Linked DNA regions of Homo sapiens: regions 1, 2 and 3 are each linked to region 4. The links come from fine-mapping of genetic effects on gene expression. A gene starts in region 4. Each other region holds a variant in brackets. All regions are shown on one strand. Distances are from middle to middle. Region 1 overlaps IMPG2 (interphotoreceptor matrix proteoglycan 2). Region 2 has its middle 5.6 kb from the start of TRMT10C. Region 3 overlaps SENP7 (SUMO specific peptidase 7). Region 4 holds the start of SENP7 (SUMO specific peptidase 7).

Evidence for each region. PIP is the estimated chance that this variant, and not a neighbour inherited with it, causes the effect.
Region 1: its variant is fine-mapped to the expression of SENP7 in cerebellum (GTEx, PIP 0.94).
Region 2: its variant is fine-mapped to the expression of SENP7 in whole blood (INTERVAL, PIP 0.96).
Region 3: its variant is fine-mapped to the expression of SENP7 in whole blood (INTERVAL, PIP 0.99).

Annotation. Positions count from the first base shown.
Region 1 is chr3:101,299,998-101,308,106 of GRCh38, reverse strand. It overlaps IMPG2 (interphotoreceptor matrix proteoglycan 2), which reads left to right. Exons shown (of 19, transcript NM_016247.4): 3 at 3,795-3,961. Among named protein-coding and RNA genes, the nearest start is that of IMPG2, 17 kb to the left of the region's middle. The variant G/T (reference allele first, on the strand shown) is at 3,106.
Region 2 is chr3:101,552,213-101,560,321 of GRCh38, reverse strand. No RefSeq gene overlaps it. Among named protein-coding and RNA genes, the nearest start is that of TRMT10C, 5.6 kb to the left of the region's middle. RefSeq lists an enhancer at 3,701-4,313. The variant A/G (reference allele first, on the strand shown) is at 4,810.
Region 3 is chr3:101,427,881-101,435,989 of GRCh38, reverse strand. The region is part of intron 4 of SENP7 (SUMO specific peptidase 7); the gene reads left to right. Among named protein-coding and RNA genes, the nearest start is that of SENP7, 81 kb to the left of the region's middle. The variant AG/G (reference allele first, on the strand shown) is at 4,481.
Region 4 is chr3:101,509,029-101,517,137 of GRCh38, reverse strand. SENP7 (SUMO specific peptidase 7) reads left to right here and starts at 3,926. Exons shown (of 24, transcript NM_020654.5): 1 at 3,926-4,047. The coding sequence starts at 4,008.

The DNA.
Region 1 (8,109 bases), 210 kb after region 4:
ACAGCAGTGGAGCTGCCCAAGACTGTGGGAGTCCACCTCTTACATCAGTGTGACATGGATGTGAGACATGGAGTCAGAAGAGATCATTTTGGAGCTTTAAGATTTCACTTAATTTTGGCCAATTTTGGCCAATTTCTCCCATTTGCAACAGGTGTATTTACCCAAAGTCTGTACCTCCGTTGTATCTAGGAAGGAACTAACTTGCTTTTGATTTTACAGGCTCATAGGTGGAAGGGACTTGCCTTGTCTCAGATGAGACTTTGGACTTGGACTTTTGGTTAATGCTGGAATGAGTTAAGACTTTGGGAGACTGTTGGAAAGGCATGGTTGTGTTTTGAAATGTGAGGACATGAGATTTGGGAGGGGCCGGGGCAGAATGATACAGTTTGCCTGTATCCCCACCCAAAATCTCATCTTGAATTTTAATCCGAATTGTAATCCTTATGTGTTGGAGGCAGGACCCTGTGGGAGATGATTAGATTATGGGAGTTGTTCCCCCATGCTGTTTTCATGATAATGAGCAAGTTCTCACATGATCTGATAGCTTTTTAAGGGGCTTTCCCCCACTTCACTCAACATTTCTTTCTCCTGTTGCCATGTGAAGAAGGATGTGTTTGCTTCCCTTCCACCATGATTGTAAGTTTCCTGAGGCCTCCCCACCCATGTGGAACTGTGAGTCAGTTAAATCTCTTTCCTTTATAAAGTACCCAGTCTTGGGCATTTCTTCATAGCAGCATGAGAATGGACTAATACAATAGGATTGGTGTATATTTTGTTATATAAGAAACAATTAACATTTATTTCAAAGTGGTTATACTATTATACATTCCTACCAAAAATGAGGCTTTTGGTTGCTCTGCATTTTTGCCAAATTTTGGTGTTGTCCATGTAAAAATTTCAGTCATTCTTGGTTTGTGTGTGGATACTTTAATTTGAATTTCTCTGAAAAATGAATGATGGTGAACAGTTTTTCACATACTCATTGGCTATTTTTATCTCTTCCTTTGTGAAGTATATATTCCAGCCTTTTACCTATTGTAAAAATTAGGTTGTTTGTTTTTTTGTTAGGGAGTTGTAGGAATTATTTCAGTGCCCTAAATACCAGTTCTTTGGCAGATATATGTATTTGGAATATTTTCTGCCAGATATGTGGTTTGCCTACTCATTTTTATTAACAGTATCTTTTGATAATCAGACACTTTTTAGTTTTGATGAATTCTAATTTATTGTTTTTTTCTTTCATAATTGTTGCTTTCTGTGTACTGCCTATAAAATCTTTGTCTATCCTCAAGTGATGTAGATATTCTTCTATGTTTTATTTTAGAAACTTCATAGTATTAGCCCTAATATTTCAAATCATTTTTTGTGTATAGTATGAAGAAGGCATTGAGATTTATTTTTTCTTTCCCTATGGGTAGATAGTTATTTTTTTCAAACATTGTTTTATACTTTCTCTGAATCACTTCATTTCATTACCAGACATTATAGACATTCACTTTTTGTTAGTTTTTACTGACCCAGACTTTTCACCTTTGCATTGTCTTTTGGAATTTACTTTAATTTTCATTTCGAAGTTTTAAGAAGAAGAAATGAAAAACAATGATCTACAAATAGTTCAGCTCTGCCTCAGTCAGTGCCCGCTGTATGCTGTATGGTCAGAAGTTCTTAATAACAATAATAAGGATACAGGTAGTTCACTAAAAGACAAATTAAGTTTGTAATGAAAGGTTTGGTTTAGCCCTAAAACCCAATTGATAGAGAAACTTTCAATACTCATACATTTCATAATCTGTTAAAGCTTAAGAATTTTTTTGGCTTAGACTATCTTCTTCTACCAAATAACTATTGGACAATTAGAATTGAACACGATAATAACATATGATATTCATGTAGCACTTTGCAATTTGTAAAATACTTTCACAGATAAGATAATAAGGCAGTAATTATTTATCCTGTTAAAAAGAGAGATGAGTCAATTGAAGCTTTGAATAGTTAGGTAAGTTACCCATGGTATCAAACTAGTATACTGGAAAGCTAGAGCGGGAACTTAGATCTTCTGACTGTGGGAGTCCAGAGGCTCCACCTCAATGTGGATCCTGCCTGATGTGTGTTCAATCTTCTTGCTATGAAAAATAGTTTTTTTAATCTCTGTTAAATCTAACTTTCTCTCTTACCACTCTCTTCCTTTTCCCTTCCATCCTGATGTATCTGTTACCTACAGTGTCCTGCGCCTCTGAAATGGTTACAGAACAGCAGTACATTCAGTACTATACAAAAAGCACAGAGATACTATTTAGCAGCCTTTCAGATTTGATGCTTTGGAATAACTTAGCAAATAAATTGATTAGTTTTTATTATAATACAGCAATATATTTCTCCTGAATATCATTTTAAAGTTCATGTGTATGTATGTATGTGTGTATATATATTTTTTTTTCTTAAATTAATAGGCTATATTTCTTAGAGCAGTTTTAGGTTTACAGAAAAATTGAGCAGTGTGTTTAGAGAGTTACCATGTATTCCCTCAACTCCCCCACCACTTTTCCCTGTTATTAACATTTTATAATATTGTGGCATATGTGTTACAATTTATGTGCCAATATTGACACATTATTCTTAACTGAAGTTCATAGTTAACATTAGGGTTCACTTTTTGTGTTGTACATTCTATGGGTTTTGACAAATGTATAACGACATGTATCCTCCATTATAGTATCATATGGAGTACTCTCACTGCCCTAAAAATCTGCTATGCTCCTCCTATTCATCCCTGTCTCCCTCAACCCCTGGAAACCACTGATCTTTTTACTGTCTCCATAGTTTTGCCTTTTCCAGAATGATATTGGAATCACCAGTATGCAGTCATTTCAGATTGGCTTCCTCTACTTAGCAATGTGCATTAAAGTTTTCTCCATGTCTTTTATGGCTTGAAAGTTCATTTCTGTTTATCATTGAATAATATTTTAGATATATCACAGTTTGTTCATCCTTTCACCTATTGAAGGACATCTTCATCACCCCCAAGTTTTGGCAATTATGAATAAAGCGACTTTAAATACCCGTATGCAGGTTTTTGTGTGAACATAAATTTTTATGTATAAAAAA[G/T]ATTATTATTTTCTGTTCTCAGATATGAAATATAGTAGTTTGAGAGTGATAATTTCAGGTGGATATCTTCTACTTGATTTTATGTAGTACTTTCTGCTTCCTGTAAGCTTTGAGGAAAAGTTTGAATACTCCTGTTTTTTTTTTTTATCAGAAATATGTGATGACTTTTTGAGCAAGTAGATGCAATGCAGTTATGTCACTGCATTTAGCCAAAAAGCTCCAGGCCATTTATAAACGTCAGTGTCTCCTTCCCCAGTGATCATGAAAAGCAAAGAAGCTGATTTTTGAAGTTATGATTTCAGGAGAACATCTGCAAACATTAAGGAAACTGAAAATCACAGTGTCCATTAGGAAAACATTGGATTAAATACAGTATACTCAATATCAGCTCCACTTTTGTGAAGTATAAACATGGACTTTTTTAAGAGATGGGAGAGACACTCCAGCTCATGAAGAGATGAATCAATTCTCTTTGTAAGAGAAAGGAATGGGAAATATAAATTCTCTTCAGAAATGAAAAGTTTAAACTGGACATACATACAGAAGGCCTTTGACTGAGAATCATTCCTACATCCCTCCAGAAAGGACACTTCAGTGTCTCAAGGAATCTGTACGAATCAGTCTATGATCATTGTAAGAACCCCAGAGCATGTTAGCTTTTTGTAAAAAAACACCTCTCTATTTTCTAGTGTGTCAGGAAGCTGTCTGGGAAGCCTTCAGGACTTTTTGGGATCGACTTCCTGGGCGTGAGGAATATCATTACTGGATGAATTTGTGTGAGGATGGAGTCACAAGTATATTTGAAATGGGCACAAATTTTAGTGAATCTGTGGAACATAGAAGCTTAATCATGAAGGTAAGTGTCACAACAAAGGAAGGGATTCCTGGACTATTGTAGGAGCATTTACACAGCTAAGGCCTAAAGGAAGCAAAAGCAAGTGGCAAATGCCTGTATTACTCTTTTGTTGAATTGGGCTATCTGAGTAAGCTGCCCTAGGGTGTGGCCTAGTCTTTTATTCCTAGCTCTGGCCTCTATAATATACATTATTAATATTTTCATGTTATTCTGTCCACAAAAAGAAAAAGAAGACATTATTAACTCAGACAAGAGCCTCAGCCTTGTTTATAGATGTAAATATTTGGAAATAATATTCAGCAAAGGTTTAGGTTAAGAATATAAATCCGTGAGAGTCAAACATTTTTGCCAAAGTTTTACATGTTATCAACTCAGAGTGAATAGCAATAACTCTAATTAAGATAGAGGACATAGTTCATTTGAATAAATGTTTAGTGAGGCATAGGTATGATTCTAATAATGAGTGTGCTCACTTGTTTTCCTTGTTTTAGACATTGTTTTACTCTTAGCAAAGGATAAATAAACATGCATAAAGACAAATTACCTGCCACTTTTCCCTTTTCGTGTAGCACATATGTATTCATGACAAGAAAGTGAAACTGTCCAGACGTACGTGGCAAATTGTTCATGCTGTTTGTTATTCCGTATATCTCCCTGTCCATCTATTCAGTTCCTCTGTGTCCTCATATGTAACTTCCCTTGCAAGGAACCAAACCTCAGCCTAGAAGATTTAGCTACCATTATTCTTCGAGCTCCCACAATTCTTTATTCATTTTTAATACTGTACTGTTTATATTTTATGATGATTGCTTGTATATGTGACTAATTCCTCTTCTAGACTATGAGTCAAAAGGCAAGGATTATGTCATTGTTTGTTCATTTTTGCATTCCCATAAGGTAGTAAATATGCAATAGATGTTTGTTTAAATGAGTATATGAGCAATAACCACATTGTATTTTTTTACTTGGTACAATTTATAAACTTTATGAAGATTATTTTAAGTACTGGTTCTAAGTATTACATACCTTACAGAGACTGAGGAAATAATTATTGACTGAATAACACTGAGCTATTTTGTGTATAATCAAATCAGATTAGTATATCGTAAAGGTAATAAAATATATTATCCTATTCTATTTTTAAATTTTATTTATAGTAGAAGAATTATATTCTTTTAACATTTAGTCCAAGAGAGGAATGATCTTATTAAATGGGGGACGTTGGGGAGAGAAGGATGGTTTGATAAACGTGGGTGGACCAAAGACAAATTTTGCGAGGGTATAAATGTTTTGAAGCTGTGCAGGGTTTTGTGTGTTTTAAAATGAACGCAACTTTTAATCATGGCACCTCACATTTTAATGAAACGTATTGCATGTGTTTTTTGCCTGCCACATTTTTAACTGCTCAGTATTAATAACTATGTTGATAGCTACTATTTATTCAGTATCTACCATGTACCATGTCATGTATCAAGCTCATCAATAAATTATTAGATGTTATAACAGCAACCTTATAAGGAGGTGGTAATGTCCCCATTTTACAGATATGGACATATAATTATTAAATTCTTTATTCTATAACATAAAACCAGATATGATGGAGCTTAAATCCAAACCCAGTTCTCTTTTCCAAAATTGATGTCTTTTCCCTTCACACCATTGGGCCTCCTTTCTCAATCATTACCAATTTTACAAATTGCAGTGGCTAACATGGGATAGCTATTTAATGGAAAATATATAGACATACACACACATATACATACTTATATTTCTAATTGCATTGCCTATCTTAATTATGTCCGCAATATAGGATCAGCCATTAGTGTGGCAAATATATATGATGGGTTAGTATTACCAGAAGAACAGAATCTTCTGATGTTACCTTGGAATGTATCTCTTACAAGTGGAACTTTTAGTAAATTTATATTTGAAGGCATAGAAAATATACTTCCAATAATTATTTAATAGAAAAAGCAGATGAAGGGAATGATGTGTTGCCTAGATAGAGTTGTAAATGATAAGTACAAGTTACTTAAATGAAGAAGAGCTGGGGATAAACATTCTAGGCAGAAAGGACAGCACGAGCCAAGTGTTTGTAGGGAATGACCTCGGTCAATATACCAAAGAGGTAGACTAGGAATGACAGGAGATCAGACTAAAACAATGGATAACTGAACAAGCTTGGATTTAACTCTGTAGATCGCAGGAAACCATTGAAGGGTTGTAGGTAGGTAAGTTGCAGGAGCTGATTTGGCAGTTTTGAATTTTAAAAAGGTCGTTACGGTTTCTACATAGCATAGGATGGATTATAGGAGATAAAACTGGAACAGAGAGACAAGGTAGGGTGTTGCATCAGTACTCCAGGCCAAAGAGGATAAAGATACCAACCAGACCATGAGATAGACAAAGGAAACTTGAGAGATGTAAATAGGAACAAAATTAGTAGGACACTGATGGGTCGAGACAGGGTGAAGGAATGGCCCAAGAAGCCTTCCAGTTTCTGGCTTGGGTAACTAAGACCAATAACGAGGGCAAAGAAGCAGCTTTGTAGATGTGGCAGGGAGAATGAGTTCACTTTTGATGTATTCATTTGAACCACCTGTGTGAAATGTGAATTGTTTGCTATTTGGGTATGAAGCCAAGGATAGGGGTCTGGGATGCCAATGTTGCTATAGGAATCACCATTTTGGACTTAGTGCGGGCATACTTTATTTTATTGTGCTGCCCTTTATTGTGCTTCACAGATACTGCATTTTTTACAAATCAAAGGTTTATGACAACCCTGTGTCAAGCAAGTCTGTTAGTACCATTCTTCCAACAGCATGTGCTCACTTTGTGTCTCTGTCTCACATTTTGGTAATTCTCAAAATATTCGAAATTTTAAAAAATTATTTTCTTTATCTCTTATGTGATCTGTGATCAGTGATCTTTGATTATTACAATTACAATAACTATTGTAATTGTTGTGGAGTGCCATGAACAATATCCATGTAAGACAACAAGCTTAATTGATAAATGTTGTTTGTGTTTCAACAACTCCACCGACTGACTTTTCCTTGGTCTCTCAGGCCTCAAGCCGTCTCCTCAGGCCTCCCTATTCCCTGAGTTACAGCAATATTGAGATTAGGCCAGTTAATAACCCGACAATGGCTTCTAAGTGTTCAAGTGAAAAGAAGAATAGCATGTCTCTCACTTTAAATCAAAAGTTAGAAATGATTAAGTATAGTGAGGAAAGTATGTCAAAAACTGAGATAGGCCTTAAGCTAGGTCTCTTGCACCAAATAGTTAGCTAAGTTGTGAACGCAAAGGAAAAGTTCTTGAAAGAAATTAAAAGTGGGGGGCGGGGCCAAGATGGCCAACTAGAAGCAGTGGCAATCTGTGGCTCCATCTAAAAGAACCATAACAGCATGTGAATCCTGCACTGGCAGCCAAGGTATCCAGGTTTTGTCATCAGAACTGACTAGGCAACTGGCGTGACCCACGGAGAGGAAGGAAGAGCAGTGTGGTGCCGCAGCCCCCAGCCAAGGGAGGCAGTGAGTGAGCCTGCTACCCAGCCTGGGAAAACGTGCTTTTTCCACGGAACTGTGCAACCCACAGATCAGAAGATCTCACTTGGGAGCCCATACCTCCGGGGCCTAGGGTCCCAACCACAGAACCAAGCAGATTTTCAACAGCCACTAAGCTAGAATCTGCTTAAGCCTGCGGAGCTCCCCGCGGGAGGGGCAACCAGCACCACCGCTGTGGCTGCCTGCTGTCTAAGCCCTTTGAACTCCTTTGCAGGAGGGGCTACAGCCAACACTGGGACTGATAGCTGCCTAACACACTAAGCTCCCAGGGTGGGGGAAGGGTGGCAGCCATCTCTATAGCTCCAGGCCATGTCTTTCCCCTGCTGGAGCCAGGGAGGCTGGACGGCTTGCTCCCAAGAGGTATACCCCACAGTCCAACACACTAGCTGTGGCAGACTGCGGACAGAGCGCCTCTTCAGGCCGGACCTTGACATGTCCCTGCTCACTGGGTGGGGCCTCCTTGCAGGAACTCCAACAACTCCATCCAGGGACTTAGGGACAGACTCTAATCTTCCTGGGCTTGAGCCTCTAGAGGGAGGGGTGGCCACAGTCTCTGCGGACGGGTAGATTTAGTCTTCCCTC
Region 2 (8,109 bases), 43 kb before region 4:
TCCCAAACATGGAAAAAAATCAAGAATAAATATCGTCTAGTAGTTATAACAAATAGCAGTGTAGAGGTTATTTTTTCTTGTTCCTGTTCTTTAAAGAGATACATCTGAAGTTTTTCCATTAATATTTTATGAAGGTTTTTGCTATATGATCTTTGTCAAGTAAAGGAAATTTCATTCTGTTAAGTTTACTAAGATTCTTTATGTGAAAAATCTTTGGAAGTGTTTCTATAAATATAGCAGAACATAATTTATTCAATATGTCTGGGATCTGACCTATTCTAGATTAAGAATATTTCCAGGTTTCAGACATCTTACCTCCAACAAAAAGCACAGTGATTTTCAAAATACGTTTTTTTGTTTTTTTTTTTTGAGACGGAGTCTCGCTCTTTCACCCAGGCCAGAGTGCAGTGGCGCGATCTCGGCTCATTGCAAGCTCCGCCTCCCGGGTTTACGCCATTCTCCTGCCTCAGCCCCCGAGTGGCTGGGACTACAGGCGCCCGCCACCGCGCCCGGCTAATTTTTTGTATTTTTAGTAGAGACAGGGTTTCACCGTGTTAGCCAGGATGGTCTCGATCTCCTGACCTCGTGATCCGCCCGCCTCGGACTCCCACAGTGCTGGGATTACAGGCGTGAGCCACCGCGCCCGGCCTCAAAATACATGTTTTGGCATAGAAAAATAGCTTGTAATATGGGATGTAAGGTATCAAAAAAATAAAAAATAAATTGTAGGCCAGGAGCAGTGGCTCATGCCTATAATCAGCATTTTGGGAGGCCAAGGCAGGCAGATTGCTTGGGCTCAAGAGTTCCAGACCAGCCTGGCCAACGTGGTGAAACCCTCTCTCTACAAAAAATACACAAAAAAAGAAAAGAAAAAGAAATAAATTTTAAAAGCAAGGAAATATATAAAAACCCATAAGACAATGTCACATAAACACTAGAATTGAAAAACTAGAAGGTCTGAATGCTCTCTCTTGGCTCATATTTCTTCTTGGAAACAATGGTTAGACCTAAATAAAGGCTGTTTTGTAGTCAAGGCACCCACTCTCCAGTTCCCCAGAGCTTATTCCACCACATGTTATCTTTTCTACACTGGTGCAAATGTCATTTGCCATGTATTTTGCCTGCACTGTTTATTATATAATAGAGAACGATTTCTCTATACCAACGTCTCTTTCAAGAGTTGGAAGACAAAGCATGGATTCAAAGATTTAGGTGTTACTTACAAAGTAGAGAACTCTTGTATTTGATTCTCTGCTCTACCTTCAATGTCTACAACAGTGCTTGGCAAGTATCGGAAACTCAATAATAATTTGCTGATGAATGAATACTAAATAGATCAGGTAAGTGATGTTAGTGGCTTGGACAACAGTGGTGGCAGTAAAGGCAAAGAAAAGGGGGAATATTTGAAAGATATTTAAGAGCTGGACATGACAGAATTTGGTGATCAATTTGGGAGAGAAGGAGAGGAACAAGTCAATAGTCTGGTTTGAGCACCTGGGCAGACAGTGAAAAGGAGTATATGGTGTGAGGGCAGAGATGGTAAGTATAGTGTTAGACATGCGGCTTTTCATCTCTCTTCAAAATAGCCAAATGATATCTCCTTTAGGATATTTGGCAGTTGGCTGTATGGGTCTAGAGTTTAGGTGAAAGAAGAATGCACCAAAGATACATATTTGAGAGTTATTAACATAGAGTCTGTGAAACCATATGGGTGGAAGAGATTACCTAGGGCTTGGGTAGAGAACAGGAATGGACAAAAGAAACTGAAAATAAGCAGCTAAAGAGATGGGAGGAAAACAACCAGAATATGACATAGAAATCAAGGAAAAGGTGTTTTCAAAGACAAGTGGATGGGTAACAGGGTCAAATATTGCCTAGAGATCATGCAATGCAGACTGAAAAGTATCTACTAGATTTAGCAATACAAGGGCCACTGGGACCTTCATTGTGAGGTTTGGGGGCTTTAGCCAGATGAGAGTGAATAAGGAATGAGGAGATTATGAGAAAATAGAATCAGCAAGTTTAAACATTTCTATGAAATTTGTCTAAAGAAAAGACAGCGTGCTCAGTCCCTGGATGTGGAGTCCAGGAAAATTTTCTTCATTATTATTATGTTAGATTGGGAGAGGCCTGACATTTTAAATGCTGTTAGAATCATCAGCAAAGGGGTAAGAGAAAGAAAGGATAATGGGATGGGTAGACTTCCTGAGAAGATTAACAGAGATGGTATATAGAGGAGAGATGCTATTTAGAGGAGAGATGGAGAGATTGGTTTCGTATAAGAGGAAGAAATACCACTTTCATTGTAACAAGAAGAAAGGAAGAAACTTAAGGTGGGTATGGAGGACAATTTATAGACATGATGGCTATAATTTGATACAGTTCGCATTCTCTGTGAAAGAGGTAGACAGACTACCTCTGCGGATACTAAAGATTGGGTGAAGGTTTGTTATTGTCATAAAGAATAACATATAACAAATGTACAGAAACAGAAAGTAGAATGGTTGTTACTGTGGAGTCCTAATTAGGGAAAAGGAGTCAGGCTGGCGGGACCAGAGGAAAGCAAAGAGATAAAGCAAATAAGCTATAAATATGCCTGTCTTCACGGTTCAGGACATATAAACAAAAAAGGAAGAGGATGAATTATAGGTCTGTTTTTCTTTATGCCCAAGGACATATTGCCCAATACATATGGCCCTCCTACTCAGATAATGTACGTAACTCAAAAACTTACTGCTTACCAACAAACGCCTCAATTTATCAAACATCTCAGCTGACAAAAGAAAGCAAGTTATGCTGCCAGTGCATTGGCATTATCAATCAGCCCAAGTTCTATGTTATAAAATCTCCAGCTAATCTTTGTCTCTTTGCAGTCGGCTCCTCTTTTGCAGCCTTCCGGTTGCTTTATTGCAATGTATTTTCCTACTTTCTTTCTCTCTCTCTCTTTTTTTTTTTTTTTGAGAGGGAGTCTCGCTCTGACACCAGGCTGGAGTGCAGTGGTGCGATCTCAGCTCACTGCAACCTCCGCCTCCTGGATTCAAGCGATTCTCCTGCCTCAGCCTCCCGAGTAGCTGGGGCTACAATCATGCGCCACCACGCCCAGCTAATTTTTGTATTTTTAGTAGAGACGGGGTTTCACCATGTTTGCCAGAATGGTCTCAATTTCTTGACCTTGTGATCTGCCTGCCTCAGCCTCCCAAAGTGCTGGGATTACAGGCGTGAGCCGTGCCTGGCTTTTCCTACTTTCTTTAATAAATTTGCCTTTCTTTACAAGCGTTTTTGGTAAATTCTTTTACTCCAGAGCCACCGGCCCAGATAGTTGTCCCTGCCACCCCCTGTGACAGTTACCAGGAATGGTGGAGTTGTTTAATGAGTTTCAGATATGCAAGATGAAAAAGTCCTGGAGATCTGTTGCATAGCAATGTAAATATAGTTAACACTACTGAACTGCACACTCAAAAAATGGTTAAGATGGTAAAGAAAGAAGTATGAGTTGACTAGTGAGACAGCCATGATATCAGGCAGTGCTAATAGTCTAGTTCAGTTTGGGGATCATGAATTTATAGTGATACCAATCTGTGTTACGTGATCTTTCTCCCTATTTTGCTAATGCTGCTAAGGGCTAAGATGGCTGGGTAAAACTCAGTTTACAGAAGGGGAGTGGTGTAAAGTTGTTAAATATTTTGGTATAGGGGAAGAAATATGACTATCTATCTTCCCTTCATGAGTTCTTAGCTGAGACTCTCTGTAACAAAAGACAGATTGAACAAGAGAAAAACAAGTTTAATAACTTGTATACCTCTTGTATGCATGGGAGATAACCCAGAGAGATGAGTAAATCTTAAAAAATAAAAATTAACAAAAAAAGATTTTAAACTTCAGGGTTGAATATTATCATTTTCTGAAAACAACAACAACAACAACAACAACAAAGAAGGATGTGGAGACAGATTCAGTTAAGTTGAGATGACCAGCAAAATTACCTTAAACGGAGATAAGGTTTGTTATGCAGATTTCAGGTGATTCTGCCTTGATTGTTTAAGAGTCTCTAGTGATTTAGGGCCAGACTGGTGGCTCATGTCTGTAATGCCAGCACTTTGGGAGGATGCGGTGGGCTGATCACCTGAGCTCAGGAATTTGAGACCAGCCTGGCCAACATGGCAAAGCCCCATCTCCACTAAAAATACAAAAAAAAAAAAAAAAAGATTAGCTAGACGTGGTGGTGCATGCCTGTAGTCCCAGCTACTTAGGGGACTGAGGCAGGAGAATTGCTTGAACCCAGGAGGCAGACATCATGCCACTGCACTCCAGCCTGGGCAACAGAGTGAGACTTCATGTCAAAAAAACAAAAAGTGTATCTAGTGATTTAATAATCAGTGTCTTCTTGGTGCAGAGAGGGAGACATCCTTATCAATGGAGATTTCCTTTATTGAGATAAAAGGACAACTTTTCATAGCTGCTTCTGTGTCTGCAGCTTCCCAGAATAACTAGATCAGAATAATCAATATGTCAAAGAGGCATATTTTAGGGTGATGTGTTCTAGTCTCCTATGGTCATATTTTGGGTTGGTGTATCCTGAGCCCCATCATCAGCATCAGAGTGGCTGCAGGAGTGGTCTGTAGAGTCTATAGGAGATCAAAATATACCATCCCCAAAAATGTCTCTCTGGTGTAAGGATTATTTTGAGCTGAAGACAATTAATAAAAAGCAGACATAACATGAGCTCTCTGCCCTCTCCTATCTGCCTGAGAGTAAAACATACATTTCCTCTTGTGAAGGTGTTCCTCCCACCACTCACACACTTAATGA[A/G]GTTGTTGTCACGGGGTTAGCAAGAATAATGGACAGAAATACAATTATAATTAAGCATTAATCAAGCTGCACTTTGACTCACTTCCTCATAACCAAAAGTTACATAGCACCAGATTTGCATCCCCATTGTTCCTATAAATAGAATTTCTGATGTTAAAATCATAAAGTTTTTAAGATAGGTAGGAGCTCTGATATTAGAATCATAAGAATTTTATTTAAAAAGTGCTTGGCCAGGCATGATGGCTCACCCCTATAATCCCAGCGTTTTAGGAAGCTGAAGCAGGAGGATCACTTGAGTCCAGGAGTTTGAGACCACCCTGGGCAACATAATGAGATTCTGTCTCTATAGGAACTAAAAAAAATTAGCTGGGCATGGTGGTGCATGCTTGTAGTCCTGTTACTGTTGGAAGGTATCTGAGTTACCGGCAGCAGCGACTTTGTATGGGTCTGCAGCAACTTCAATTCTTGTCTCCTCAGAAGAAAGATTTCAACTGAGGAGCAGAAGGCAGAAGAAGAGACAGAGGTGAGTTTCAGAGCAGGAGTGGAAGTTTATTTTAAAGGCTTTAGAACAGGAAAGAAGGAAAATTCACTTGGACGAGATCCAAGTGGGCACCTGAAGGTCAAGTGTGGTGTTTAATCTTGATCCTAGGACTTTATAGGTGTGTTAGTCTGTTTTCATGCTGCTGATAAAGACATACCTGAGACTGGGCAATTTACAGAAGAAAGAGGTTTAATGGGCTTACAGTTCCATGTGGCTGGGGAGGCCTCACAATCATGGCAGAAGGCAAAAGTCACTTCTTACATGGTGGCAGCAAGAGAGAGCTTGTGCAGAGAAACTCCCATTTTTAAAACCATCAGATCTCATGAGACCCATTCACTATCATGAGAACAGCGTAGGAAAGACCCACCCCCATGATTTGATCATCTCCCACCATGTCTCTCCCACAAGTGGGAATTATGGGAACTACAAGATGAGATTTGGGTGGGGTCACAGAGCCAAACCATATCATTCTGCTCCTGGCCCTTTCCAAATCTCTGATCTTCACATTTCAAAACCAATCATGCCTTCCCAACAGTCCCCCAAAGCCTTAACTCATCTCAGCATTAACTCAAAAGTCCACAGTCCAAAGTCTTATCCAAGACAAGGCAAGTTCCTTCTGCCTATGAGCCTGTAAAATCAAAAGCAAGTTAGTTATTTCCTAGATACAATGGCGGTACTGGCATTGGGTAAATACAGCCATTCCAAATGGGAGAAATTGGCCAAAACGAAGGGGCTATAGGGCCCCTGCAAGTCCAAAATCCAGCAGGGCGGTCAAATCTGAAAGCTCCAAAATCATCTCCTTTGACTCCATGTCTCACATCCAGGTCATGCTGATGCAAGAGGTGGGTTCCCATGGTCTTGGGCAGCTCCGCCCCTGTGGCTTTGCAGGGTAAAGCCTCCCTCCTGGCTGTCTTCACAGGGTGGCATTGAGTGTCTGCAGCATTCGAGATGCATGGTGCAAAGCTGGCAGTGGATCTACAATTCTGGGGTCTGGAAGACAGTGGCCCTCTTCTCATAGCTCCACTAGGCAGTACCCCAGTAGTAGGGACTCTGTTTGGGGGCTCCCACCCCACATTTCTCTTCTGCACTGCCCTAGCAGAGGTTCCATGAGGACCCCGCCCCACAGCAAACTTCTGCCTAGACATCCAGGCGTTTCCATACATCTTTTGAAATCTAGGCAGAAGCTCCCAAACCTCAATTCTTGACTTCCGTGCACTCGTAGGTTCAACACCACATGGAAGCTGCTAAGGCTTGAGGCTTGCACCCTTTGAAGCCATGGCCCAAGCTCTTTGTTTGCCCCTTTCAGCCATGGCTGGAGTGGCTGGGATGCAGAGCGTTAAGTCCCTAAGCTGCACACAGCAGGTGGACCCTGGGCCCAGCCCACAGAATCACTTTTTTCCTCCTAGGCCTCCGGCCTGTGATGGGAGGGGCTGCCACAAAGGTCTCTGACATGCCCTGGAGACATTTTCCCCATTGTCTTGGTGGTTAACATTCAGCTCCTCGTTACTTATGCAAGTTTCTGCAGCCAGCTTGAATTTCTCCTCAGAAAATAGGATTTTCTTTTCTATTGCATCATCAGGCTGCAAATTTTCTGAACTTTTATGCTTTGTTTCCCTTTTGAAACTGAACGCCTTTAACAGTATGCAAATAGCCTCTTGAATGCTTTGCTACTTAGAAATTTCTTCCACCAGATACCCTAAATCATCTCTCTCAAGTTCAAAGTTCCACAAATCTCTAGGGCAAGGGCAAAATGCTGCCAATCTGTTTGCTAAAACATAACAAGAGTCACCTTTGCTCCAGTTCCCAATAAGCTCCTCATCTCCATCTGAGACCACCTCAGCCTGGACCTTACTGTTCATGTCATTATCAGCATTTTTGTCAAAGCCATTCAACAAGTCTCTATGAAGTTGCAAACTTTCCCACATTTTCCTGTCTTCTTTTGAGCCCTCCAAACTGTTCCAGCCTCTGCCTATTACCCAGTTCCAAAGTCACTTCCACATTTTTGGGTATCTTTTCAGCAACACCCCACTCCACTGGTACTAATTTACCATTTTAGTCCATCTTCATGCTGCTGATAAAGACATACCCAAGACTGGGCAATTTACAGAAGAAAGAGGTTGAATGGGTTTACAGTTCCACGTGGCTGGGGAGGCCTCACAATCATGGCGGAAGGGGAAAGGCACTTCTTTTTTTTTTTTTTTTTTTTTTCATTTTGCCTTTAACCTTTATTCTACTATTTTTCTTTTTTTTTTGAGATGGAATCTCACTCTGTTGCCTAGGCCAGATGGAGTGCAGTAGCATGATCTCAGCGCACTGCAGCCTCTGCCTCCCGGGTTCAAGCAACTCTCCTGCTTCAGCCTCCTGAGTAGTGAGATTACAGGCATGCACCAAAACGCCCAGCTAATTTTTCTATCTTTAGTAGAGAGGGGGTTTCACCATGTTGGCCAGGCTGGTCTGGAACTCTTTTTTTTTTTTTTTTTTTTTTTTTAGTATTTATTGATCATTCTTGCGTGTTTCTCGGAGAGGGGGATGTGGCAGGGTCATAGGATAATAGTGGAGAGAAGGTCAGCAGATAAACACGTGAACAAAGGACTCTAGTTTTCCTAGGCAGAGGTCCCTGCAGCCTTCTGCAGTGTTTGTGTCCCTGGGTACTTGAGATTAGGGAGTGGTGATGACTCTTAAAGAGCATGCTGCCTTCAAGCATCTGTTTAACAAAGCATATCTTGCACCGCCCTTAATCCATGTAACCCTGAGTGGAC
Region 3 (8,109 bases), 81 kb after region 4:
TTGTTCTTTTTGCTCAAGATAGCTTTGCCTATTCTGGGTCTTTTGTGGTTCCATATAAATTTTAGGATTAGTTTTTCTATTTCTGTGAAGAATGTCACTGGTGTTTTGATGGGGATTGCATTGAATCTGTAGATTGCTTTGGGTGGTATGGAGATTTTAACAATATTGATTCTTTCAATCTATGAACATGGAGTAATTTTCTATTTTTTAGTGTTCTCATATTTCTTAATAATTGTTTTATAGTTTTTATTGTAGAGATCTTTCCCTTCTTTGGTTAATTCCTAGGTAATTTTATATGTGGCTATTATTGTAAATGAGATTACTTTTTAATTTTTTTTCGTGTTTTTTGCTGTTGGCATACAGAAATGCTGCTGACTTTTGTATGTTGATTTTGTGTCCTGCAACTTTACTGAATTTGTTTATCAGTTCTAATAGTTTTTTCATGGAGTCTGTAGGTTTTTCCAAACATTGGATCATGTCATCAGCAAACGAGTAATTTGACTTCTTCCTTTGCAATTTGGATGCCCTTTATATCTTTCTGTTATCTGATTGCTCTAGCTAGGACTTCCAATACTATGTTAAATAACAGTGGTGACAGTAGACATCCTTGTTGTGTTCTAGATCTTAAGGGAAAGGCTTTCAGTGTTTCCCTATTTAGTATGATACTAGCTAGGATACTAACTATGATAGCTAGTGGGTCTGTCATATATGGCTTTTATTATGTGAGGCATGTTCCTTTTATTCTCAGTTTTTTTTTTATTATGAAGAACTGTTGAATTTTATCAAATGGTTTTTCAGCATGAACAGAAATGACCATATGATTTTTATCCTTCATTCTGTTGATATGATGAATCATGTTGATTGATTTTTGTAAGTTGAACCATCTTTGCATCATAGGGATAAATCCCACATGGTTATGATGAATGAGCTGTCTAATGTATTGTTGAATTTGGTTTGCTAGTATTTTGTTGAGGATTTTTGCATCAGTGTTCATCAGAGATGCTGGCCTGTAGTTTTCTTTTTTTGATGTTTCTTTGTTTGGTTTTGGTGTTAGGGTAATACTGGACTTGTAGAATGAGTTTGGAAGTATTCCCTCCTCCTCTCTTTTTCAGAATAGTTTGAGTAGGATTGGCATTTGTTCTTATTTAAATGTTTGGTAGAATTTAGCAGTGAACCCATTGGGTCCCGGGCTTTCCTTTACTGGGAGACTTTTAATTACAGCTTTGATCTCATTGCTTGCTATTGGTCTGTTCAGATTTTGGATTTCTTCGTGGTTCAATCTTGTTAGATTGTATGTATTCAGAAATTTGTCCATTTCTTCTAGATTTTCCAATTTATTGGCATATAATTGCTCATTGTAGCCACTAATGATCCTCTGAATTTCTGTAGTATCAGTTGTAATGCCTCCTTTTTAATTTCTGATTTTGTTTGTATTTTCTCTTTTTGTTTTTCTTTAGGTTGGCTAAAGGTTGGTCAATTTTGTTTTAACTTTTGAAAAAACCAACTTTTTGTTTCATTAATCTTTTGTATTTTTAAAATTTCAATTTCATTTGTTTTTTTCTCTCTTTATTTTTTCTCTTCTAATTTTGGGTTTGGTTTGCTCTTGCTATTTTAGTTTTTTAAGATGCATCATTAGATAGTTTATTTGAAGTTTTTTTCTTTTTTTTGATGTATGCATTTAAAACTATAAACTTTCCTCTGAATATTACTTTTTCTGTATCCTATAGGTTTTGCTGTATTGTGTTTCCAATATCATTTGTTTCAAGAAATTTTTCAGTTTTCTTTCTTAATGTCTTCATTGGCCCATTGGCCATTCAGGAACATATTGTTTTATTTCCATATATTTGTATAGTATCTAAAATTCCTCTTGTTATTGATTTCTAATTTTCCTTTGTGGTCAGAGAAGATGCTTCATATTATTTCAGTTTTTTGGAAAGTTTTAAGACTCGTTTATTGACCTAACATATGGTCTGTCCTTAAGAATGGTCTATGTGCTGAGGAAAAGAATGTATTCTGCAGCTGTTGGATGAAATGGCCTATAAATGTGTATTAGATCCATTTGGTCTATAGTGTGGATTAAGTCTGATGTTTGTTTGTTTGTTTGTTTGTTTGTTGATTTTCTGTCTGGAAGATCTGTCCAGTGCTGAAAGTGGGGTGCTGAAGTCTCCAGCTATTATTTTATTGAGGTCTATCTCTCACTTTAGCTCTAATATTATTTCCTTGGTATATCTGGGTGCTCCAGGGTTGGGTGACTATATATTTTAAATTGTTATATCCTCTTGCTGAATTGACCTCTTTATCATTATATAGTGACCCATTTGTCTCTTCTTATCATTTTAGTCTTGAGATCTGTTTTGTCTCATAGAAGTATAGTGACTCCTGTTCTTTTTTGGTTTTCATTGGAATGGAGTACATTTTTCTATCCCTTTATTTTTAGTTTATGTGTGTCTTTATAGGTGAAGTGTGTTTCTTTTAGGCAACAGATCAATGGGTTTTTCATCCATTCAGCCAGTCTGTGTTTTTAAGTTGGAGAATTTAGTCCATTTATATTCAATGTTATTATTGATAAGTAAGAACTTATTTCCTGCCATTTTGTTAATTGTTTTCTGATTGTTTTGTGGTCTTCTCTTTCTTGTTTTTTTTTTTCCTTTTTTTTTTCCTTCCTGTCTTCCTCTAGTGAAGGTGATTTTTAATATGATTTGGTTTAATGCTTTTTATTTTTTGTGTATCCATTGTATGTTTTTTGGTTTGAGGTTACCATGAGGCTTGAAAATACTATCTTATTACCCTTTATGTTAACCCGATAACAACACTATTTGCATAAACAACAAGCAAAATAAAAATTAATAAAAACTCTATGCCTTAACTTTGTCTCCCTGCTTTTTAACTTTTTTGTTGCTTCTATTTATATCTTTATTGTATTGACTGTCTTGAAAAGTTATTGTAGTTATTATTTTTGGTTGGTTTATCCTGTAGTCTTTCTACGTAGGATAAGAGTAGTTTACACACCACAGTTACAGTGTTATGATATTCTTTCTTTTTCTATGTACTTATTACCAGTGAGTTTTGTAGCTTCCAGTGATTATTTTCCTTGGTGATGTTGATGCTAGTAGATGTTCTTCATTGTCTGGGCATTGAAGAGTTAGGTTTTTATTGTAGTCTTCTCTATCTGTGCTTACTTGTAGCCATCCTTTTTGGGAAGGCTTTTCAGATATTTGAAAGGAGCTGGGTGTTATGCTCTAAGCTTTAGGGTGCACCCCAACTCAGTAATGCTGTGATTCTTACAGACTCATAGAGATACTGTCTTGATAGTCTTGTACAAGAACTGGGAGAATTCTCTGGATTACCAGGCAGAGACTCTTGTTCTTTTCCCTTACTTTCTACCAAACATACAGTCTCTATTCCAAGCCACCTAAAGATGGGGGTGGAGTGACTCAAGCACCCCTGTGGCCACCAGCATTGTGACTGTGCTGGGTCAGACCTGAAGCCAGCACAGCCTGGGTCTCTCCCAAGACCTGCTGTCACTACTCCCTGGCTACTGCCTATGTTTGCTTAAGGGTCCAGGGCTCTATGATCAGCAAGTGGCAAAGCCAGCCAGGCCTGTGTTCTTCCCTTCAGGATGGCAAGATCTCCCAAGCCCTTGGTCAGTCCAGAAGTGCTGTCCGGGAGTCAGGGACTGGAGTCAAAAACCTTAGAAGTCTACCTAGTGTTCTATTGTATTATGGTTGAGCTGGCACTCAAATGACAAGATGCAGTCCTCCCCACTCTTCCCTCACTTTCCCAAAAGCAGAAGAGCCTCACCCCATAGCCATTGCTATCCCAGGCCACAAGGAGTATGGCCAGACTACCTACAATTTCCCTTAAGGCCCGAAATCTCTTAAGATGGCTTGTTGTGAATGCTGCCTGGCCTGGGACTCAACCTTTAGGGCAGTGAGCTCCCCTCTGCTCCAGGTCAGGTCCAAAAGTGCCATCATAGGGTCACGTCCTGGAATTAGGGACCCCAAGAGCCTCTTTGGTGCTCTACTCCGCTGTGGCCATGCTGGTACCAAAGGTGCAAGACAAAATCCCCTTTTAATTTCAAAGAATAAGATAACTCCTTTTCTTTCAAAAACTGCTTCTTTAGTATTTGGCCAGTTGTCAAGTAACAAATGCATGTGCTGGAAAGGTAGAGTCTAAGGCAGACCTCAGGGATGGATGATTTTTTTTGAGACGAAGTCTGGCTCTGTCCGCCAGGCTGGAGTGCAATGGCGCAATCTTGGTGCACTGCAACCTCTGCCTCCCGGGTTCAAGCGATTCTCCTTCCTCAGCCTCCCGAGTAGCTAGGACTACAGACCCACGCCACCACACCCAGCTAATTTTTGTATTTTTAGTCGAGACAGGGTTTCACCATGTTGGCCAGGATGGTCTCGATCTCTTGACCTCAAGTGATGTAGGAAGATCTACCAGGCAAATGGAAAGCAAAAAAAAAAAAAAAAAAAAA[AG/G]CAGGGGTTGCAATCATAATCTCTGATAAAACAGACTTTAAACCAACCAAGATCAGAAAAACCAAAGAAGGGCATTACATAATGGTAAAGGGATCAATGCAACAAGAAGAGCTAACTATCCTAAATATATATGCACCTACTACAGGACCACCCAGATTCATAAAGCAAGTTCTTAGAGACCTACAAAGAGACTTAGACTCCCAAACAATAATAGTGGGAGACTTTAACACCCTACTGTTAATATTAGACAGATCAATGAGACAGAAGGTTAACAAGGATATCCAGGACTTGAACTCAGCTCTGGACCAAGCAGACCTAATAGACATCTAAAGAACTCTTCACCCCAAATCAACAGAATATACATTCTTCTCAGCACCACATTGCACCTATTCCAAAATTGACCACATAATTGGAAGTAAAACACTCCTCAGCAAATGTAAAAGAACAGAAATCACAACAAACTGTCTCTCAGACCACAGTTCAATCAAATTAGAACTCAGGATTAAGAAACCCGCTCATACTGCACAACTACATGGAAACTGAGCAACCTGCTCCTGAATGACTGCTGGGTAAATAACGAAATGAAGGCAGAAATAAAGATGTTCTTTAAAACCAATGAGAACAAAGGCACAACATACCAGAATCTCTGGGACACATTTAAAGCAGTGTGTAGAGGGAAATTTATAGCACTAAATGTCAAGAGAAAGCAGGAAAGATCTAAAATCGACACCCTAACATCAAAATTAAAAGAACTACAGAAGGAAGAGCAAACAAATTCAAAAGCTAGAAGAAGGCGAGAAATAGATCAGAGCAGAACTGAAGGAGATGGAGACACAAAAAACCCTTCAAAAAATCAGTGAATCCAGGAGCTGGTTTTTTTGAAAAGATCAACAAAATAGATAAACCAATAGCCAGACTAATAAAGAAGAAAAGAGCAAAGAATCAAATAAATGCAATAAAAAATGATAAAGGGGATATCACCACCGATCCCACAGAAATACAAACTACCATCAGAGAATACTATAAACACTTCTATGCAAATAAACTAGAAAATCTAGAAGAAATGGATAAATTCCTGGACAAATATACCCTCCTAAGATTAAACCAGGAAGAAATTGAATCTCTGAATAGACCAATAACAGGCTCTGAAATTGAGGCAATAACTAATAGCCTGCCAACCAAAAAAAGTCTAGAACCAGATGGATTCACAGCTGAATTCTATCAGAAATACAAAGAAGAGCTGGTACCATTCCTTCTGAAACTATTCCAATCGATAGAAAAAGAGGAAAATCTCCCTAACTCATTTTATGAGGCCAGCATCATCCTGATACCAAAACCTGGCAGAGACACAACAAAAAAAGAAAATTTTAGGCCAATATCTCTGATGAACATCGATATGAAAATCCTCAATAAAATATGGGCAAACCGAATCCAGCAGCACATCAAAAAACTTATCCACCATGATCAAGTATGCTTCATCACTGGGATGCAAAGCTGGTTCAACATACACAAATCAATAAACGTAATCCATCACATAAACAGAACCAACGACAAAAACCACATGATTATCTCAATAGATGCAGAAAAGGCCTTTGACAAAATTCAGCCCTTCATGCTAAAAACTCTCAGTAAACTAGGTATCGATGGAACATATCTCAAAATAATAAGAGCTATTTATGACAAACCCACAGCCAATATCATACTGAATGGGCAAAAACTGGAAGCATTCCATTTGACAACTGGCGCAAGACAAGGATGCCCTCTCTTACTACTCCTATTCAACGTAGTATTGGAAGTTCTGGCCAGGGCAATCAGGCAAGAGAAAGAAATAAAGGGTGTTCAGATAGGAAGGGAGGAAGTCAAATTGTCTCTGTTTACAGATGGCATGATTGTATATTTAGGAAACCCCATCGTCTCAGCCCAAAATCTCCTTAAGCTGAGAAGCAACTTCAGCAAAGTCTCGGGATACAAAATCAATGTGCAAAAATCACAAGCATTCCTATACACCAATAACTGATAAACAGCCAAATCATGAGTGAATTCCCATTCACAATTGCTACAAAGAGAATAAAATACCTAGGAATCCAACTTACAAGGGATGTGAAGGACCTCTTCACGGAGAACTACAAACCACTACTCCAGGAAATAAAAGAGGACACAAACAAATGGAAAAACATTCCATGCTCATGGATAGGAAGAATCAGTATTGTGAAAGTGGCCATAATGCCCAAAGTAATTTATAGATTCAATGCTATCCCTATCAAGCTACCAATGACTTTCTTCACAGAATTGGAAAAAGAACTACTTTAAATTTCGTATGGAACCAAAAAAGAGCCCGCGTAGCCAAGACAATCCTAAGCCAAAAGAACAAAGCTGGAGGCATCATGCTACCTGACTTCAAACTATACTACAAGGCTACAGTAACCAAAACAGCATGGTACTGGTACCAAAACAGATAGATAGACCAATGGAACAGAACAGAGGCCTCAGAAATCACACCACACATCTACAACCATCAGATCTTTGACAAACCTGACAAAAACAAGCAATGGGGAAAGGATTCCCTATTTAATAAATGGTGTTGTGTAAACTGGCTAGCCATATGCAGGAAACTGAAATGACTCCTTCCTTAGACCTTATACAAAAATTAACTCAAGATGGATTAAAGACTTAACTGTAAGACCTAAAACCATAAAAACCCTAGAAGAAAACCTAGGCAATATCATTCAGGACATAGGCATGGGCAAAGATTTCATGACTAAAACACCAAAAGCAATGGCAACAAAAGCCAAAATTGACAAATGGGATCTAATTAAAGAGCTTCTGCACAGCAAAAGAAACTATCAGCTGAGTGAACAGGCAACCTATGGAATGGGAGAAAATTTTTGCAATCTGTCCATCTGACAAAGGGCTAATATCCAGAATCTACAAAGAATTTAAACAAATTTACAAGAAGAAAAAGAGAACCTCATCAAAAAGTAGGTGAAGGGTATGAACAGACACTTCTCAAAAGAAGACATTTACGCAGCCAACAAACTTCTGAAAAAAATTCTCATCATCACTGGTCATTAGAGAAATGCAAATTAAAACCATAATGAGATACCATCTCACGCCAGTTAGAATGGTGATCATTAAAAAGTCAGGAAACAGCAGATGCTGGAGAGGATATGGAGAAATAGGAACACTTTTACATTGTTGGTGGGAGTGTAAATTAGTTCAACCATTGTGGAAGACTGTGTGGTGACTCCTCAAGGATGTAAAACTAGAAATACCATTTGACCTAGCAATCCCATTACTGGGTATATACCCAAAGGATTATAGATCATTCTACTGTAAAGACACATGCACATGTATGTTTATTGCAGCACTATTCATAATAATAAAGTCTTGGAACCAACCCGAATGCCCATCAATGATAGACTGGATAAAGAAAACATGGCACATATACACCATGGAATACTATGCAGCCATAAAAAAGGATGATTTCATGTCCTTTGCCAGGACATGGATGAAACTGGAAACCATCATTCTCACAAAAGAAACACAAGAAGAGAAAACAAAACACTGCATGTTCTCACTCATAAGTGGGAGTTGAACAATGAGAACACATGGACACAGGGCAGGGAAC
Region 4 (8,109 bases):
GGCTGAGGCAGGAGAATCACCTGAATCTGGGAGGCGGAGGTTGCAGTGAGCTGAGATCGTGCTATTGCACTCCAGCCTGGGCAATAAGAGCAAAACTCAGTCTCCGGGAAAAAAAAAAAAAGGCATATTTTGAGGTGACATTCTGGTTTCCTTCAATAGTTTACCTTCAAGAATAAGATTGTTAGAGCTAGAAGGGACCTTATTGATATTCTTAGCTAACATGTTTATTTTATAAATGGAGAAGTTGAGGCTTTCAAAGGTAAAGTGGCATGCCCAAAGTAACTGAGGCAGCCCAGGAGCCTGAGAGAAGATTTTTTTTCCCCTTTTTTGACTTTTATTTTAGGGTCGGGGGAATGTGCAAATGTGTTACAAGGGTAAATTTTGTGTCACTGGGGTTTGGTATACAAATGATTTCATTACCCAGGTAGCGAGCATAGTATCTGATAGGTAGTTTTACAACGCTCACCCTCCTCCCACTCCAAGATTAGTTTTTACCAAAGATTTAAAAATGCATAGTATTTGACTTTTTATTTCATTCATTTACCAAAAATTTAGTGAGGCCATTTGGTAGGCACTTTGTTTCCTATGTCAAGTACTCCAGTCGTTTTACGCAGAATAAAATTTTAAAAAAGGAGAACAGCATATACGCATTAAAGAAAATTTGAAATTAGGCTTTTCCAGTATCCTGGATTAGGTGGTGACACAGCTGTAATGACTTGTTCTAGGTGTGGTTATTTCTTAAAAAACAATTGTGAAAATATACATAACAAAATTTACCATTCTAACCATTTTTAAGTGTGCAGTTCAGAGGCATTACGTACATTCATATTGTTGTGTAACCATTACTGACATCCATCCACAGAATGCTTTTCATCTTACAAAACTGTAACTCTATACCCATTAAACAATAACTCCCCATTCTCCTCATCCTAGGCACTAGCAACCACCATTCTACTTTCGATCTCTCTGAATTTGACTTCTCTAGGTTAGGTGTGATTATCTTTAAAGAAGAGGGTGGGTGGGACACCAGAATCATAGATGCAAATAACTTTAATTAGCGTATTTGGATTTTTAAGGAACCCCTTTCCTTTCTAGGATCAAAAGTGGTTACATTTAACAATATTTACATTTTTCACAGGTGATTAGTAAGCTTTTATAAGAAGTAATTTTATAATCTGAGAAGTTAGGAAATCCCCTGGTTACAGAGTAATAATCTAATACAGTAATTATAATCCTTTTTTATATTTAGGAACAAGGTCCTTTTGTATATACCATGCCATTAAGAAGCACAGAATGGAGAATACTTTTACTCAGAATATTTAAAAATATCTAATGATACTTTTTTTTTTTTACAACGAGTAAGTTTTCATTTATTTTCATATTTAGGAAAGCAAAACAAAACAAAAAACCTCTAGAAAATATGTTTGAAAGAAAGAATACTGTTTTGGTACAAAAGCAGCACTATTTTTCTTTTCCCAACACAGAAAGCAATTATGCAGTTTTTTAGAAAAATAATAATGCCTGTATTACAATTCCATTTAGTAAATTGTAGAAAATAATAGTGGTTGTGAAATTATATCTGTAGAAATTTCAAAATAAGATGAAAGTACATAATGTCCCTCCTCACTGTTCACCTCTCCCTAGGGAACAAAAAAGTTGTATTTAATCCACCAGAGGCAAGGACACATAGAAAAAAGAATATTAGAGATAGGAAAAAGAAAAAAGCAGATGTCACTAAGTGTTGGTTTTACCAAATTGGAGTATGCAACAGAATCGTCTGGGAAGTTTATTTTTTATGTTTTTTGGAGACAGGGTATCTGTGTGTCGCCCAGGCCGCAGTACCGTGTAGCGATCATAGCTCACTGCAGCCTCAAAGTCCTGGACTCAAGTAATCCTTAAATCTCATCTTCCCCAGTAGCCGGGGACTATAGGTGTGCTCCACCGTGCCCGGGTCATTTTTTTTTTTTTTTCCGAGACAGTCTGGCTCTGTCGCCCAGGCTGGAATGCAGTGGCCTGATCAAGGCTCACTGCAACTTTTAACTCCATGGGCTTAAGTGATCTTCCTGCCTTAGCCTCTTGAGTACCTGGGACTACAGGCATGCGCCACCACGTGTGGCTAGTTTTTTTCTTTGTAGAGAGGAGGTCTCACTATATTGCCCAGGCTGGTATCAAACTCCTGGGCTCAAGGGTGAGTCATAGCATCTGGCCTGTATATTTTTGTGGAGAGGGGGGTCTTGCTTTGTTGCCCAGGATGGTCTGGAATGTCTTGGCTCAATCTATTCTGCCTCGGCCTCCCAAAGTGCTGGGATTACAGACGCGAGCCACTGTGTCCGGCCCAGCTTGACTTTAGAATCAGTTAAGTTCTTTAGTTAAAAAAGTTAATTTGGGCCAGGCGCAGTGGCTCACGCCTGTAATCCCAGCACTCTGGGAGGCTGAGGCGGGCGGATCACGAGGTCAGGAGATCGAGACCATGCTGGCTAACATGGTGAAACCCCATCTCTACTAAAAAATACAAAAAATTAGCCGGGCGTGGTGGCGGGCGCCTGTAGTCTCAGCTACTCGGGAGGCTGAGGCAGGAGAATGGCGTGAACCCAGGAGGTGAAGCTTGCAGCGAGCCGAGATTGTGCCACTGCACTCCAGCCTGGGCGACAGAGCGAGACTCCGTCTCAAAAAAAAAAAAAAGTTAATTTGTGAGGAAACTGAAAATTCAATTATTTTTCAGAAAGCAATGTTTTTGTTAAACAGAAATTAACCAAATAAAACGAAATCCTTACAGTAAACTTCAATCCCAGCAAGACTTAAAGTATTTCTGCTTTGCAGTCATTCCTGCCATGTAGAACACTTCCCCAGGCCCAACACCCCACAACACCTGGGGCCTTACCTCTACCTGGGGACTGACCACATTATAATTAAGAAGGCTTAACTCACGATGAAGGGGACTGCTCTAGTGGACGAGTTGGGCCGATCCCTTTATTGACTCCGTTAGGATGGGAGATGGGGGTTGGAGGGATAGGCGTTAGGGGTATAAAGGGGCCAGCTTGGGAATCAAACCCTACTTCCAGAGTCCCTTCGGGCTTTGAACATGCCAGAAACATTTTCCCTGCTTAGAGCACTGTGCTGAATTTTGTTAAACTTGTGATTAAATCGTCATGAAAGCTTACACGTGCATTTAAAAATTATTCAGATATGCACCATTAGGGATAATCAGGCTAATAGTACCAGACCTTGAGTTCATTGAGGACTGGATTAGTCCCTTAAGTATCGTGGTAAATGTTAATTGAACAAATTCCAAGTTTATAGCCACCCACTTTCTGTCATATCAGCATTTCAGTTATTGAAAAATTAAGTTCTAGCTTTTCTTTTAAGGAACTTTAAAAATCACAAGTTCGAATTTTAAAAAGGAATCCTAAGACATTTTTCCTCGTCTGCTGACATATTTCCACAGCAAATGCTAAACTAATAGCTAGGCTATTATTAGGTGATTTTGCCATCTTAAAATCTTTTGGTTTCTGAGTTCGAGGAAAGGCGTTGGGGGCAAATATGTAAGAGAGGCTGTGAGGGATGTAATACTGCAAACGCTAACGTTTTGTTTTCATAGTTGTTTGGCCACCTCGCGAGATCCAGTGAACCGGAGGAGTTCCTGTTTTTCCCTTTTAATTTTTGTCAATCTAATCTTCAAAGTCAACAAAGCTAAAATCGAGCACCCAGGTGGTTCACCTCCCCAGAGGGGCTCAGATCATGAAATAAACGCCACCAAAAAAACGCTGGAAGAGGCAGCCCACAGTGAAAAGTCCCAGGAAGTGATTTCCGGTCGAAGGTGGGAGGGGCGGCTGATTTCCGGTCGAAGGGCAGGCGACGGCTCTTGCGCAAGCGCGCTTCGCACTTTGCGGGCTTTTTTTTTTTTTTTTTTTTTTTTTTTTTTTTCCTTTCCCCTCCCCCTCCCTCTCCAAGCCGGAGGGGTCCTGAGGTGACAGCGCCTGCAACTGAAATTTCAGCAGCGGGAGAAGATGGACAAGAGAAAGCTCGGGCGACGGCCATCTTCATCCGGTGAGAAAGGGTCAGAGAAGGGCTGAACATATTGTCTCCTACCCGGGGGAAACGGGAGGCGCAGGCGGCAGCTGGGGTTGCGGCCCGAAGCCGCGGGGGCGAGGGCGGGGGCGGGGAGAGGAAGGGGCGCGCACAATGGAAGGCTCCCGGGTCGCCCCCGCCCCTGGAGTCGAAGACCCGGTCCGAGCTGTCATCGAAGCCTCGGGCGCTCTTCACCTCAAAACCCCTTTTATTTTTTCCCTCCTCCCGCGAACACCCTCCTTGCGTCTCATCGGCCCATGGATCTTCCCGGTTGGCTTGTCACTCTCTGCCACGCCTTCCTCGTAATTCCACCAATGTTCCAATTTCATTTCGGCTTCTCAGCGCCTGACCCCACTTTCCTCTCTTCCTTTGATTCTCGACTTTGCGTCCCTTCCCCTCTCCCTCCTCTTTCCCTCAGCAGGTAGCTGCTGCTGGGGAGGAAAGGTGGGGCTTGCGACCGGAGACTCCTTTTCTTTGATACAATGCCTCTCCGGGTCTCGTTCTGCTGAACAGGCCCGCCTAATAGCCTTTTTCTTTTCCAGCCTACCCTGCGTCTTCCAAAAGTGATTGGAAAGTCAAACAAAGGATTTGAAGCCGTGCTTTCGTTGTGTTTTTATTTTCAGCATATTTTTTGTTTTGGACGTTACTTTGTTTTAAATGACTATCTTCAGTTTTGTGTACAACGTCTTGGAAACAAGAAAGTGGAGTTATAAAAACGTGAGGTAGAGCTCCTCCCAGTTGAGAAGTTTTTATCAAACATTTCATCCATTAGGGGGTCCTCAAGTCCTTGTGTTAAGTCCTATGGATGGTAGGAGGAGAGGACGAGGACTCATATGCTTACAGTCCAGTACACAAACGAACGCCCAATGAATCAATTATTTCATTTCATTTTTCTGTTTCTGATGGTACCGTTGGTTTCTGCAGAGACAGTTAACAATTACAGATTTATTGGCCGGGCGCGGTGGCTCACGCCTGTAATGCCAACACCTTGGGAGGCCGAGGCGGTCGGATCACAAAGTCAGGAGATCGAGACCATCCTGGCTAACATTGTGAAACCCCGTCTCTACTAAAAAATGCAAAAAATTAGCCGGGCGTGGTGGCGGGCGCCTGTAGTCCCAGCTACTCAGGAGGCTGAGGCAGGAGAATGGCGTGAACCCGGGAGGCGGAGCTTGCAGTGAGCCGAGATCGCACCACTGCACTCCAGCCTGGGCAACAGAGCGAGACTCTGTATCAAACAACAACAACAACAAAAAAAAAACAAAAAAAACCAATTCCAAATTTATTTAGGAGTGCCCTGTGGCAGTGCATCTCAAACTGCTTTCAGCCTTAATTGCAAAGGAGAGTGATTATGGATCTCTGGGGACACTGCTTGAAGCAGTTGAAAACCTGAAATCCCTTTTCATATGCAACCAATGTTATCGATGTTCTTGGTGTATATTCTGGAGATAATAGTTTTTTCCTTTGAAAGCACATGTATAAATGATATATATGTATATTTATACATACATGTAGGTATATGCCTCCAACTGATGAGTGTTTTAATAGTCTCCACCCCCCACCAAACCTCTAAGTAAAATGGACACATTAGGAAAACGCACAATGCTTAGCTGGTGTCATTTGCGGGCTTCCTAACACAGAACTTTAGGTGTGATCATATCTTCCTTTGAGATGCACAACCTTTTTTAAATAAATGCATTTCATCTAGGTTTAATACATTTTTGAGGAGGGAAGGTAAGATATTTGCCTTGTAATTCAACAAGTCACGTTCCTTTTTACCTGATTACACTTAGATTTATTTATTTGTCACAGTAACTTGATGTAAGTAGTTGTGGGAAGTGGATTTTGATAATAAAGCTGTTAATCCTTAAAAGACATTGATATTTACGTTAGTTATATCTCTAGAGAGCGTTTTCTTTTTCTCGTGATCTCTCTTTTGGAGCTGTCCTTTCTGAAAAGTAAGGTATAATAAAATCCATACCCAAATCTAATGTTACCTAGCTGTTCTCCAGTATGCCTCTAGTTTTAAGATGTGCACTAATTAATTTTTAAGTATGCTTCTGCTTTTCTTAATAGCGTATATTTAATTTCCTGAATAAATTCTCAGAAATAAAACATTGGCTGGTTGAAAGATTCCGTGTAGTGGTTGTAGGCATGCAGTTGCCATTTCATTGTAAGTTGTTGCTAACTGGAACCCAAATGAAGTGACTTTTTTTTTTTTTTTTTTTTGAGATGGAGTCTCGCTCTGTTGCCCAGGCTGGAGCGCAGTGGCACAATCTACCACCCCTGCCTCCCAGGTTCAAGCGATTCTTCTGCCTCAGCCTCCCTAGCAGCTGAGATTACAGGTGCCTGTCACCATGCCCGGTTAATTTTTGTACTTTTAGTAAAGATGGGGTTTCACAATGTTGGCCAGGCTGGTCTCAAACTCCTGAGCTCAGGTGATCCACTTGCCTCGGCCTCCCAAAGTGCTGGAATTACAGGCGTGAGCCACCGTGCCCGGCCATGAAGTGACATTTATAGTCATCAAAGTTTCCTAAGTATGCAGAAGAGTTTGATTAATAAAACAGGAAGAAGAGGTAGAAGGAAGGTGGGTAGCAGTAGAAAGATAAAATAAAACACAAAATTTGAAGTTTTATCTGTGAGACTACATTAGGCTGCCCTAAACTTTCTGCTAAACAAGGAAGAACTGTAAAATGTTCACAGTGTACCGCTCAAAACTTTTTCAGTTGCAAGTAGCAGAAACCCAATTCCAGATGGTTTAAGCTAAACACATGTATTTGTAACTCATGTAACTGATAACTATACCATTTAAAGCAGTATATTAGATGGTGATACACATTAAAAAACGGCTGGCATCAGAGACAGGTTCACTGAAGTTGAATGATAAAGTGTCTGGGAGCAAGGGAGAATGACCATTAAAAGTGTTAAACAACAAAAATACAGCACAGATAAATTAGAATCATAGACTGCAATTTTCAAGTGAATTTTTGAATCAAAATAGGAAACGTCAAGTAAATTTGAACCAGTTTTCAACTGATTGCTTCAGGCAACATTCTTGGAGGCCTGTGTCACTCTCATTTGTAGTTAAGGATAACGTATGTTCTTTAAGTACTTAGGCACTAGACATTGTGCTAAGAACTTCACAAACTTCAATATTTTCAAAAGCCTTATAAGGTAATTGTTTTTCATTTACAGATGAGAAAACCGGGATTTAGGGGCAGGATAAAGATTAGTAATAGCTAGTAAGGAACAGAATTCAAAATGTGGTCTCTAATTACAAAATCTATAGTTTTAACTTCATTTACTGCTACTAGTGTCCCTGATGGTATAACTTTCTTAAATCTTTCAGTAGGTCCAGGTGATGTTTGCTTTGCATTGAAAGTGTAATGAATGATAATTGAAGCTCAAGATGAGAACTTAACGATTAGTTATGATAAAGCTGCATTATTTGCAGCAATCTTAGTTGAAGTCATTGGAATGAATGGAATTGCCCACAAAAAATAGTATAGAGTGAGGAAGGTCTTAAATCACATACAACTAATTTCAAAGTGCGGAGGAAGAGATATTACTAAGCAGTTAGATAGGCTGATTAGGATTGTGACAGGTTCGGGAAGAAAGGGAGGAGAGTAAAAAAAATGTTAGCCTTTCAGAGAGTTAAAGTAGCATGAGGGTACTGGATTTGGCAATTAGGAGGCTACTTTTACTGATGGTAAGAGTGGTTAGTAGACTAGTAGACAAAAGCCAGATTTCAACAGGCTAGAGGAATGAGTGGCAGTGAGGAAATGGGGCAGCAAAAGTAAGCTGGGAAAATGAGATGGGAAGGAAATATTTCTAGAACAAGCTTGAGTAGGAAATTAGGTAGAAAGGCTTGTTTTTTTTAGGAATATGAGAGACTTAAATCAGGTTGGTAGGGAGTGGGAAAGGGGTGGAGAGGGAAAGATTGAATATATATCAGGTAGGAGATAATGGAGTGAGGTCCCAGAAGAAATGGGAGAGAGGGATGACATCAAAGAACAGTTTGGTGAGATATAGGGAAAGGAGAAA